2 separate regions of the Homo sapiens genome follow, and region 2 is reported to be linked to region 1. The links are microRNA targets in miRTarBase. Many come from high-throughput screens and were not tested one by one. Region 1 holds a microRNA gene; the other region holds the end of a gene's coding sequence.

Region 1 (5,000 bases):
CTTCAGGGAGCTGGAGCAGCCGCTGGAGCACCCCGTGACGGTGAGCAGCTGGCGCTGGGCTGGGGGGTCCTGGGCAGAGCGGGACCCCAGAGTCAGCTGAGCCTGCTCTGCAGGGCGAGCCAGCCACGTGGATGACCTTCCTCATCTCCTACTGGGGTGAGCAGATCGGACAGAAGATCCGCAAGATCACGGACTGGTGAGTCACTGGGAACACCCGCCCCACCGCCCTGCTCCCCAGGCCCCTGCTGTCACCTCCCAGCCCGCCCTATCGTGACTCCTCCCCATGAGCTCCCTTCAGACTCAGAGTCTCGTAGCTGTGTCCTTCTGGCCCCTCACGCAGCGCATCCTCCCTCCAGCTTCCACTGCCACGTCTTCCCGTTTCTGCAGCAGGAGGAGGCCCGCCTCGGGGCCCTGCAGCAGCTGCAACAGCAGAGCCAGGAGCTGCAGGAGGTGGGTGCCCCCGGCCTTCCGGAGGCGGGTGTAGGAGGTGGGTGCCCCCGGCCTCCCGGAGGTGGGTGCAGGAGGTGGGTGCCCTGGCCTGGCCTCCAGGAGGTGGGTGCAGGAGGTGGGTGCCCTGGCCTGGCCTCCAGGAGGTGGGTGCAGGAGGTGGGTGCCCCCGGCCCAGCCACCCCACCTGCCTGCCCAGCCCCCGCTGACTGCCCACTCTGGCGCAGGTCCTCGGGGAGACAGAGCGGTTCCTGAGCCAGGTGCTAGGCCGGGTGCTGCAGCTGCTGCCGCCAGGGCAGGTGCAGGTCCACAAGATGAAGGCCGTGTACCTGGCCCTGAACCAGTGCAGCGTGAGCACCACGCACAAGTGCCTCATTGCCGAGGCCTGGTGCTCTGTGCGAGACCTGCCCGCCCTGCAGGAGGCCCTGCGGGACAGCTCGGTGAGCAGCCTGAGGCCTCGCCCCCTCTCCGCCCGCCCCTCCTACCAGGCCGGGGCGTTTCTGCCTCACTTCCAGCCTCTGGCTCCCTGCACCTGGGCTTTGCCTAGGGGCTCCTTCTCCTCCCAGCCTCCTCCATGGCCCACCGCTTCCAGGGAGTCTGCCCTGATGGCCCTGGCCCAGCAAGCCCTACCCTGACTTTCCTAAGTCCCTGGAGGCTGCACAGGATAGTTTTAAAGTCAGAAGCCTCATTCCAATCCAGGCCCCCCTGTGACCTTAGGCCTGCTCATGGTCTGTGGAACCGGTGTGATGCCCCTGCCTCCGGGGGTCACCCGCCGCGCACAGCAGGTGCTTGCGGGTGAGGCTGGGCTCCTTCTCCTGGGCCGTCCCTAGGAGGCAGCATGCTTGCCTTTCCCAAGCAATTGCCAATCCATGTGGTGTCTTTGGGCCCCCACCAGGGCAGAGCAGGGCTGATCATCTCACGTCAGAGAGAGGGGAAGGGGCTGCCCAGTGAGCCCCCACAGGGCTCTACATCTCCAGCTGGGCCTGGCTGGAGATCCCAGGGTCCCTGAAGGCCCCCGCCACCGTTCTGGTCTGTCTCTGCCCTGGCACCCAGATGGAGGAGGGAGTGAGTGCCGTGGCTCACCGCATCCCCTGCCGGGACATGCCCCCCACACTCATCCGCACCAACCGCTTCACGGCCAGCTTCCAGGGCATCGTGGATGCCTACGGCGTGGGCCGCTACCAGGAGGTCAACCCCGGTGAGAGCCACGGCATCCTTACCCGTGTCCTGGGAGGCTCAGCTGCCCCACTGGGTGGGTGTGAGCCTGAGGGGGAGGTATCTCCATCCTGGGCCTGGCCTGCCCTCCTGGGATGAGGGGCACACATCCCATCACTCTCAAGGGGCTGTTGGGCTCTGCAGCCAGTGTGAGGCTTTATGTCGGCCCCCAGCCAACTCCCCCTTGTTGAGTTTACAAGGGAGCCGGCACGGGCTTGTGCAAAGAACAGAGGCTGTGCGGTGGGCATGGCCCAGGTTGGAAGCCCATCTCGCCTACTTTGAGACATTTCTTAGCTTCTCTGAGCCTCAGCTGCCTCACCTGCAAAATGGAAATAATAGCGCAAACCTCAGAGGAATGTTGGGAAGCTTAGTGACTGTTGGAGACTGCAAGCTGGAGCCAGGGGCAGCCTTTGGTGTGGTTGCTTTGGTTGCACAGCTTTTTTTTTTTTTTTGAGATAGAGTCTTGCTCAGTTGCCCAGGCTGGAGTGCAATGGCATGATCTCGGCTCACTGAAACCTCCGCCTCCCAGGTTCAAGCGATTCTCCTGCCTCAGCCTCCCAAGTAGCTGGGATTACAGGCACGCACCACCACGCCTGGCTAATTTCATATTTTTAGTAGAGATGGGGTTTCACCATGTTGGTCAGGCTGGTCTTGAACCCCCGACCTCACGTGATCCACCCACACAGGCCGTTGGGGGCCCAAGCACCCTGACTCTTGCCCACTGGATGAGGCAGGGCCCCTCCCTGTCCTGTGACCAAGTCCCCTCCCGACATGGGCTCCACCACATCACACCCATGCTATGGGCCGGGCCCCCACTCAGTGTCACTGGGGGCACTGGGGGGTTTGCTGCTTCTGCAGGGCCAGTGTCCTGGGGCTGGATCTGGGCCCCAACAGGATTCCCCTGCACGTGGGCAGAGGCTGGTGCAGCTAGAGCATCACCTGGAGGCCCGTGGCAGATAGAATGCTGCCAGCTCAAAGCACCAGCCGTCGGGGCAGCGTGTTTGCCAGGGAAGCTGTAACAAAGTGCCACCGGCTACTGGCTTAAGGGGCAGACACGGTCCCACAGTCCTGGAGGCTGGAAGTCCAAGACCAAGGTGTCAGCAGGGGCCGGGGGCACTGGCTGATGCCTGTGATCTCAGCACTTTGGGAGGCTGTGGTGGGAGGAGGATCTCTGGAGTCCAGGAGTTCGAGACCAGCCTGGGCAACATAGCAAGCCCTTGTATCTTAAAAAAATAAAAGATGATGAGGTGTTGTCAGCAGGAGTGGCTCCTTCTGAGGCTGTCCAGGAAGATCTGTTCCCGGCCTCTCTCCTGGGCTTGGAGCGGCCGTCCTCATCTTCACACACTGTTCTCCTTCTATGTGGGTCCAAATGTTCCTTTTCATAAGGACATCGGGCACACTGGATTGGGGCCCACTGTAATGGCCTTATCTTAACCCAGTGACCTCTGTAAGGACCCTGTCTCCAAAGAAGGTCACATCTGGAGTTCCTGGGGGTTGCGACTCCAGTGTATCTTTTTTGGGGTCACAACACAGCCCCTGACAGTGTGTATGTTGGGGTCCTCCTGCCTCCCATGAGGACTTGTTCCCATTTTACTGATGGGAAGTCGAGACTTCAGAGCTGAAGTGACCAGCTCGGCCTCCCGGAACTTGCCATGTGCCAGCTGGGGCTGCCTGTGGCTCCCTGTCCTCTCTGGCTTCTGTGTGGAGCTCTGGGAACAGCAACAGCTGAAGCTGCTAACTTCCTGTGGCTCCAGCAGCTGGCCCGTGCTGCCCGTGGAGAACTTATGAAGTGGTCTGGTGTTACCTGCATTTTACAGATGGGGAAATGGAGGCTCAGAGAGGTGAAGTGGCTGGGCCAAGGTCACACAGCTCCTAAGTGGTGGGTTCTTTTTTTTTTTTTTTTTTTCGGAGACAGAATCTTCGCTCTGTCGCGCAGGCTGGAGTGCAGTGGCGCGAGCTCGGCTCACTGCAACCTCCGCCTCCCGGGTTCAAATGATTCTCCTGCCTCAGCCTCCTGAGTAGCTGGGATTACAGGCACCTGCCACCATGCCCAGCTAATTTTTCTGTTTTTAGTACAGGCAGGGTTTCACCGTGTGGGCCAGGCTGGTCTCGAACTCCTGACCTCGGGTGATGCCCCCCCCCCCCCCCGTCTCGGCCTCCCAGAGTGCTGGGATTACAGGCATGAGCCACTGTGCCTGGCTGCTAAGTGATGGGTTCTTGACTGCAGGCCAGCAGGGCCTCCGTGGCGTCTTGGGCCGGGAGGCAGATGCTGGTGTGTTCGGGGGTTCCCAGCTCACCCACCTCTGCCCACAGCTCCCTACACCATCATCACCTTCCCCTTCCTGTTTGCTGTGATGTTCGGGGATGTGGGCCACGGGCTGCTCATGTTCCTGTTCGCCCTGGCCATGGTCCTTGCGGAGAACCGACCGGCTGTGAAGGCCGCGCAGAACGAGGTGAGGGGCGGGGCTGGGGTCCTGATGAGGGTAGCAGGGCCAGGCAGCCCCTCACCACACCACTGCCCCCCCAGATCTGGCAGACTTTCTTCAGGGGCCGCTACCTGCTCCTGCTTATGGGCCTGTTCTCCATCTACACCGGCTTCATCTACAACGAGTGCTTCAGTCGCGCCACCAGCATCTTCCCCTCGGGCTGGAGTGTGGCCGCCATGGCCAACCAGTCTGGCTGGAGGTGAGGCCCGGGCCCCAGCCCGGCTGGGGGCCCCGCAGCACCCGCAGCCCTGACCGCCCTCCCCTGCGTTGCCGCAGTGATGCATTCCTGGCCCAGCACACGATGCTTACCCTGGATCCCAACGTCACCGGTGTCTTCCTGGGACCCTACCCCTTTGGCATCGATCCTGTGAGTCCTGGGATGGAGTGTCCGTGGGTGGTGAAGGCAGCTGGGAGTGGGGGCTGGGGCTCCCCTCGGTTCAGCCGTCCTGCAGCGCTGTCGCTGAGCACTCCTGTGTGCCAGGCCCTTTCCTCAGCACAAGAGGCAGACAAGCCTCCTGCCCTGCGGAGCCTGCATCACAGTCCCCTGAGTGTGCGGAGGCAAAGCGAGACCAGCCAGGAACCAGTCTCCTGAGTGTGCAGAGGCAAAGCGAGACTGGACAGGAACCAGCCTGCAGCTTGCACTGTGCCAAGCACTGTTCCCAACCCTCTGTGGAAGTGATTTTCTTTTTTCTTTTTTTTATTTTTGGATATAGAGTCTCATTCTGTTGCCCAGGCTGGAGTGCAGTGGTGTGATCTTGGCTCACTGCAACCTCCATCTCCCGGGTTCAAGCGATTCCCCTGCTTCAGCCTCCTGAGTAGCTGGGATTACAGGCGCCCGCCACCATGCCTGGC
Region 2 (5,504 bases), not on the chromosome of region 1:
CGGCATCAAGGCACCCTGAGCCCGTGCCCGAAGAGGGCTCGGAGGATGAGCTACCCCCTCAGGTGCACAAGGTAAGGGCCCCGGGGCCTAGGAAAAACTGCCAGAAATAGTAACTTCCAGGGTGAGGTAACAGCTTTTCAGGGGAAGGAAGATATGCCCCACCCCCACACAGAGATACTGTACCCTCCCTTCCAAAACACACTACCCCTTCTTTTCTCAACTGCTCTGCAGGGCTTGGTTTTTCCTTACCTTACCTCCCCAGGAATCAACCTTTCCTGTCCCTTTACCTCTAGGTTTCTATGGGGCTAGCAGGTATCAACCAGAAGCTGAAGACTATCTCCATTACCAACCCTTTCTCCCCACAGGTATAGACAAGGCTGAGCAGGGTTCCTGTGGCCCAGGATGGAGGCCACCGCTGCCCTGCCATCCCGTCTGCCTGCCATGGGACGGCTCCTCTGAGTGTTCCCTGGCCCCACGTGTGTGGTGTTTGTGTGTCTGTGCCTGGCCAAGGGAGGTGCCAACACTGGGCTTGCCACAGCCCCAGGAGAGGAATTTGGGGCCTAGGAACCGAGGGCACACGGGACTCTAGCCTCATCCCCAGGACCCCCTTGGCTCAGAGTGTGGTGCTAGAAACTGGCCCCCAGCCCAGCCCCAGTACTGCCACCTTTACACCTACCCCTGCAAGTCCCCAGAGGGCTGCCCACGATAGAAGCTGCCAAGCAGGGAGAACCTGTGCCAACTGTGGAGTGGGGAGGTTGGGCCTGGACCCTCAACCCCTGCAACCTTCCCTAGCCCCCTCAATAGATGAGCAGGTCAGGCTGTGGCCCTTACCTCACCCGCAGTTCTCGCCCAGTGCTGCAGCCGGCTCACCTCTCTCCGCTTCTTGCACATCACTGGCCTGTGTGTGCTGCTTGCTCCTGTTCTGTTCGCTTGCTCCCGTTCCGTTCGGCTTTTGCTTTGCGTTAGGGTGAAGACCCTAGCGTCCAGCTCCCCTCAACGCTATATTTTGACACTAAAAAAGAAGGTTTCTAAATTGTAGGAGCAGGATGGAAATACTTTGCTGCCCTTGCCATCTTTTAGGATGGGCCCCCAGGAGACTGAGGTCTTCCTGGGCCCTCATTGCTGCTTATCGTACCCCCCATCACCTGCACATGGGACAGACCGGGCTGGAGGGTGACCTTGGCTGTGTGCGTCCCAGCAAAAGAGCTCTGGCCCGCATCTCGCTGTGCCCTGAAGGGGGATGAAGGGCGATGCCTCGCCCGAGGCTTTGGGCTGCTGCACTGCATGCTGGGACTGCTCCTACTCTCTGTCCCACCCCTCACCCAGCTGTGGTCCGGCTTTGGGAGAGTGGTGAATTGCGCTGCCCGAACTCGGAGCGGAGCAGGGTAGGGACCGTGTACAGCTTGATAACCCTTAATAAAAAGGGAGTTTGACCAGACTTCTTGTTGTCTCGCGCGGCTAGAATCCTGGGAACAAGAGAAATGGGATGGGGACTCTGCCGGGGTCTAGAAGAAAGTATGTTTAGGCCGTCGCTCAGATACGCTGAGCAAGGCGGCTGGCGGAAGGGCAGCTTCCGACCCACAGTTCCGTGGAGGTCTGTGTCCTGCCCCGAGCCAGGATTCCGTGAGGTCTGTTTCCAGCCCCGAGCCACGATTCCGTGGAGGTTTCCAGCTCGGCCTGGTCGTCAGATTTCCCGCCCTGGGCACGTGACCAAGCCGGCTCTGCTTCTCTAATTTGCATTCGTTGCCTGCACCATTCCCCCCGCTCCCCCCTCGGAGACATTTGGCCAATGGGAGCCGTGGGTAGGGGCTGTGGGCGGGGCTACAGCCGTGGAGCGCGGTGCGAGTCCAACACCGAGCATTCCCGTGGGCCTGCAGTTGGCAGGAGGGTCCCGGGCCCAGAGCCAGCGGGGCCGTGCTGAGACGGCGTACGTGCCCTGCGTGAGTGCGTGGCGGCGGCGCGTGCGCTAGGGGAGTGGGCGGTGAGGCCTGGTCCACGTGCGTCCCTTCCCGGGACCCCCGCAGCTTGGCGCCCAGCGGCTACGTGAGCCAAGGCACCCGGATGTCCGCGCCCCTCTCCGAGTGACCAGTCCCGGCCTCCGGTCCCGCAGTGCCCGCAGCCTCGGCCGGCGTCCACGCATTGCCATGGTGACTGTGGGCAACTACTGCGAGGCCGAAGGGCCCGTGGGTCCGGCCTGGATGCAGGATGGCCTGAGTCCCTGCTTCTTCTTCACGCTCGTGCCCTCGACGCGGATGGCTCTGGGGACTCTGGCCTTGGTGCTGGCTCTTCCCTGCAGACGCCGGGAGCGGCCCGCTGGTGCTGATTCGCTGTCTTGGGGGGCCGGCCCTCGCATCTCTCCCTACGTGCTGCAGCTGCTTCTGGCCACACTTCAGGCGGCGCTGCCCCTGGCCGGCCTGGCTGGCCGGGTGGGCACTGCCCGGGGGGCCCCACTGCCAAGCTATCTACTTCTGGCCTCCGTGCTGGAGAGTCTGGCCGGCGCCTGTGGCCTGTGGCTGCTTGTCGTGGAGCGGAGCCAGGCACGGCAGCGTCTGGCAATGGGCATCTGGATCAAGTTCAGGCACAGCCCTGGTCTCCTGCTCCTCTGGACTGTGGCGTTTGCAGCTGAGAACTTGGCCCTGGTGTCTTGGAACAGCCCACAGTGGTGGTGGGCAAGGGCAGACTTGGGCCAGCAGGTGAGGGACTCTGTGGGAAGGGGGAAGCCTCTGCTGGCCGGGCTTGGGAGAAAGCACTGCATGTCCAGTCACACTGCTTCCAGGCTTTAGGATGCCTCTAAGCAAAGGGAGAAGGGAGGGGCTGAGTCCTGCCGGGAGCTGATAGCCAGCTGGTGGGGTGTGTCTTTGCTGAGTCACTGTGGTTTTGCTTTTTTTTTTTTTTTTAAGCCTGTAAGTGCTGAATGTGTTCATGACACCAGTCCCCGGCCCTATTATAAGTAGTAATACAATGAAATTTTATCCTCAATGATACTCTCTCCACTTATATTTCATTCTAGGTTCAGTTTAGCCTGTGGGTGCTGCGGTATGTGGTCTCTGGAGGGCTGTTTGTCCTGGGTCTCTGGGCCCCTGGACTTCGTCCCCAGTCCTATACATTGCAGGTTCATGAAGAGGACCAAGATGTGGAAAGGAGCCAGGTACACCTCAGTTTCTTTTTTTTTTTGGAGACGGAGTCTTGCTCTGTCACCAGGCTGGAGTGCAGTGGCGTGATCTCAGCTCACTGCAACCTCCACCTCCCGGGTTCAAGCGATTCTCCTGCCTCAGCCTCCTGAGTAGCTGGGACTACAGGTGCATGACACCACACCCAGCTAAGTTTTGTATTTTTAGTAGAGACAGGGTTTCACAGCATTGGCCAGGATGGTCTCGATCTCTTGACCTCGTGATCCGCCTGCCTCAGCCTCCCAAAGTGCTAGGATTACAGGCGTGAGCCACTGCGCCTGGCCTCTTTTTGTTTTTAAGACGGAATCTTGCTCCGTCACCCAGGCTGGAGTGTAGTGGCGCGATCTCAGCTCACTGCACCCTCTGCCTCCTGGGTTCAAACAATTCTCGTGCCTCAGCCTCCCAAGTAGCTGGGATTACAGGTGTGTACCCGGCTAATTTTTGTATTTTTAGTGGAGATGGGGTTTCACCATGTTGGCCAGGCTAGTCTTGAACTCCTGACCTCAGGTGACCCACCTGCCTCGGACTCCCAAAGTGCTGGGATTACAGGCATGAGCCACTGCACCAGACCCCACCTCAGTTTCTGAATCCTGGAGTCTCTTCATTTCATTCCCTGTCATCATTCCTTCCCCCAAAATGAAATGCTTCTTTTCCAAATCTCAGTTTGCAACTTAGTTTTTCTGACCCCATCAAGGATCACTTGTGGGTCTGAGATACCTGGGAGCTGTAACCCCATAGGTTTTTCCCTGAAGGGTTTCTGGCTAGTGCACTTACTTGATTTCTGAGCTCCCTTCCTACGTGTTTCACCATCCTAGGTTCGGTCAGCAGCCCAACAGTCTACCTGGCGAGATTTTGGCAGGAAGCTCCGCCTCCTGAGTGGCTACCTGTGGCCTCGAGGGAGTCCAGCTCTGCAGCTGGTGGTGCTCATCTGCCTGGGGCTCATGGGTTTGGAACGGGCACTCAATGTGTTGGTGCCTATATTCTATAGGAACATTGGTGAGCAGGAGGAGCACCAGCTCAGTGTGCTGGTCCTTCATCAGCCTGGTGGCTGGGATGGTCCTTACCTAGGGAGGTGGGACAGAGCTGGGTGGTCAGAAAGAGACTGTGGCTGGTACCTGGGGCCATTTTGCCTGAAGAGAGTCCTGGGCGCCATAAGTGGGTTCTGACTCGTTTCCTCCACAGTGAACTTGCTGACTGAGAAGGCACCTTGGAACTCTCTGGCCTGGACTGTTACCAGTTACGTCTTCCTCAAGTTCCTCCAGGGGGGTGGCACTGGCAGTACAGGTATGAGAGACTCCGCCCTCACCCTGCTAGGTATAGGTCCCTCCCACAGGCATTCCCTCAGCATCCGCCTCTCCCAGCATTCCTCCCCAGCCCCCATGTACTCTCAGACCTTTCACATCCTGGTGCTGGGCTGACGTCCCTCAGCTCCCAGGCCCTACTGAGGCGTCCCCCGGCTCCCTGCAGGCTTCGTGAGCAACCTGCGCACCTTCCTGTGGATCCGGGTGCAGCAGTTCACGTCTCGGCGGGTGGAGCTGCTCATCTTCTCCCACCTGCACGAGCTCTCACTGCGCTGGCACCTGGGGCGCCGCACAGGGGAGGTGCTGCGGATCGCGGATCGGGGCACATCCAGTGTCACAGGGCTGCTCAGGTGCCGCCCCAGTGGAAAGGGCATGTGGGAGGGTGGAGCCGGAGAAGCAGGGATAGGGGCCCGTGGGAGGAAGAGAACAGACCCCGCCTGAGAAGCTGCCGCTCCCACCTTGGTGTTTTTTAAAGTATAGGATTATTGTATACATGCTCTCCTAATAACTTAGGTAATGCGGGCAGAGGGCAAATCTCTTTCGAGCTGCACTTACTTTTTCAGAGCTTCCCACTCTGTTTAGTATGTTGGGTTCTGCTCTTTTTTTGAGACAGGGTCACGCTCTGTCACCCAGGCTGGAGTACAGTGGCATAATCTCTGCTCACTGCAACCTCTGCCTCCCGGGTTCAAGCAATTCTCCTGCCTCAGCCTCCTGAGTAGCTGGGATTACAGATGTGCACCAGCATGCCTGGCTAATTATTAGATTTTTTGTAGAAACAGGGTTTCACCATGTTGGCCAGGCTGGCCTGGAACTCCTAGCATCATGTGATCTGCCCACCTAGCATTCCAAAGTGCTGGGATTACAGTTGTGAGCCATTGTGCCCAGCTGGGTTCTGCTTTTTTGCATTTTTACATACATATTATATATGCAGACTCACAGAACTAATATGGCATTGTGGAGGTTTTTCCTAAAACAAATGGTATTGTGACATAGCCATCATTCTCAGAGTTGCTTATTAACAGAACATTATGGA

The links. The annotated mature microRNA hsa-miR-6753-3p reads UGGUCUGUCUCUGCCCUGGCAC and lies in region 1 at 1,475-1,496, shown strand. An mRNA with a match to its seed (bases 2 to 7 or 8) in the 3' UTR can be bound and repressed. Matches are read on the target gene's strand: a 7mer-m8 pairs with bases 2 to 8, a 7mer-A1 pairs with bases 2 to 7 and ends in A, and an 8mer does both.
Region 2: miRTarBase lists ATG9A as a target of hsa-miR-6753-3p. Seed matches in the 3' UTR shown: 7mer-m8 at 1,157-1,163.

What each region holds. Positions count from the first base shown.
Region 1 is chr11:68,043,458-68,048,457 of GRCh38, forward strand. It overlaps MIR6753 (microRNA 6753), which reads left to right and starts at 1,337; the gene lies at 1,337-1,500. It overlaps TCIRG1 (T cell immune regulator 1, ATPase H+ transporting V0 subunit a3), which reads left to right. Exons shown (of 20, transcript NM_006019.4): 6 at 1-40; 7 at 114-196; 8 at 357-450; 9 at 675-887; 10 at 1,501-1,645; 11 at 3,976-4,115; 12 at 4,190-4,347; 13 at 4,425-4,515.
Region 2 is chr2:219,215,314-219,220,817 of GRCh38, reverse strand. It overlaps ATG9A (autophagy related 9A), which reads left to right. Exons shown (of 16, transcript NM_001077198.3): 15 at 1-71; 16 at 366-1,438. The coding sequence ends at 371. ABCB6 (ATP binding cassette subfamily B member 6 (LAN blood group)) reads left to right here and starts at 1,860. Exons shown (of 19, transcript NM_005689.4): 1 at 1,860-2,693; 2 at 3,011-3,148; 3 at 3,986-4,166; 4 at 4,353-4,454; 5 at 4,638-4,821. The coding sequence starts at 2,145. RefSeq lists a silencer at 2,421-2,530 and an enhancer at 1,776-2,643.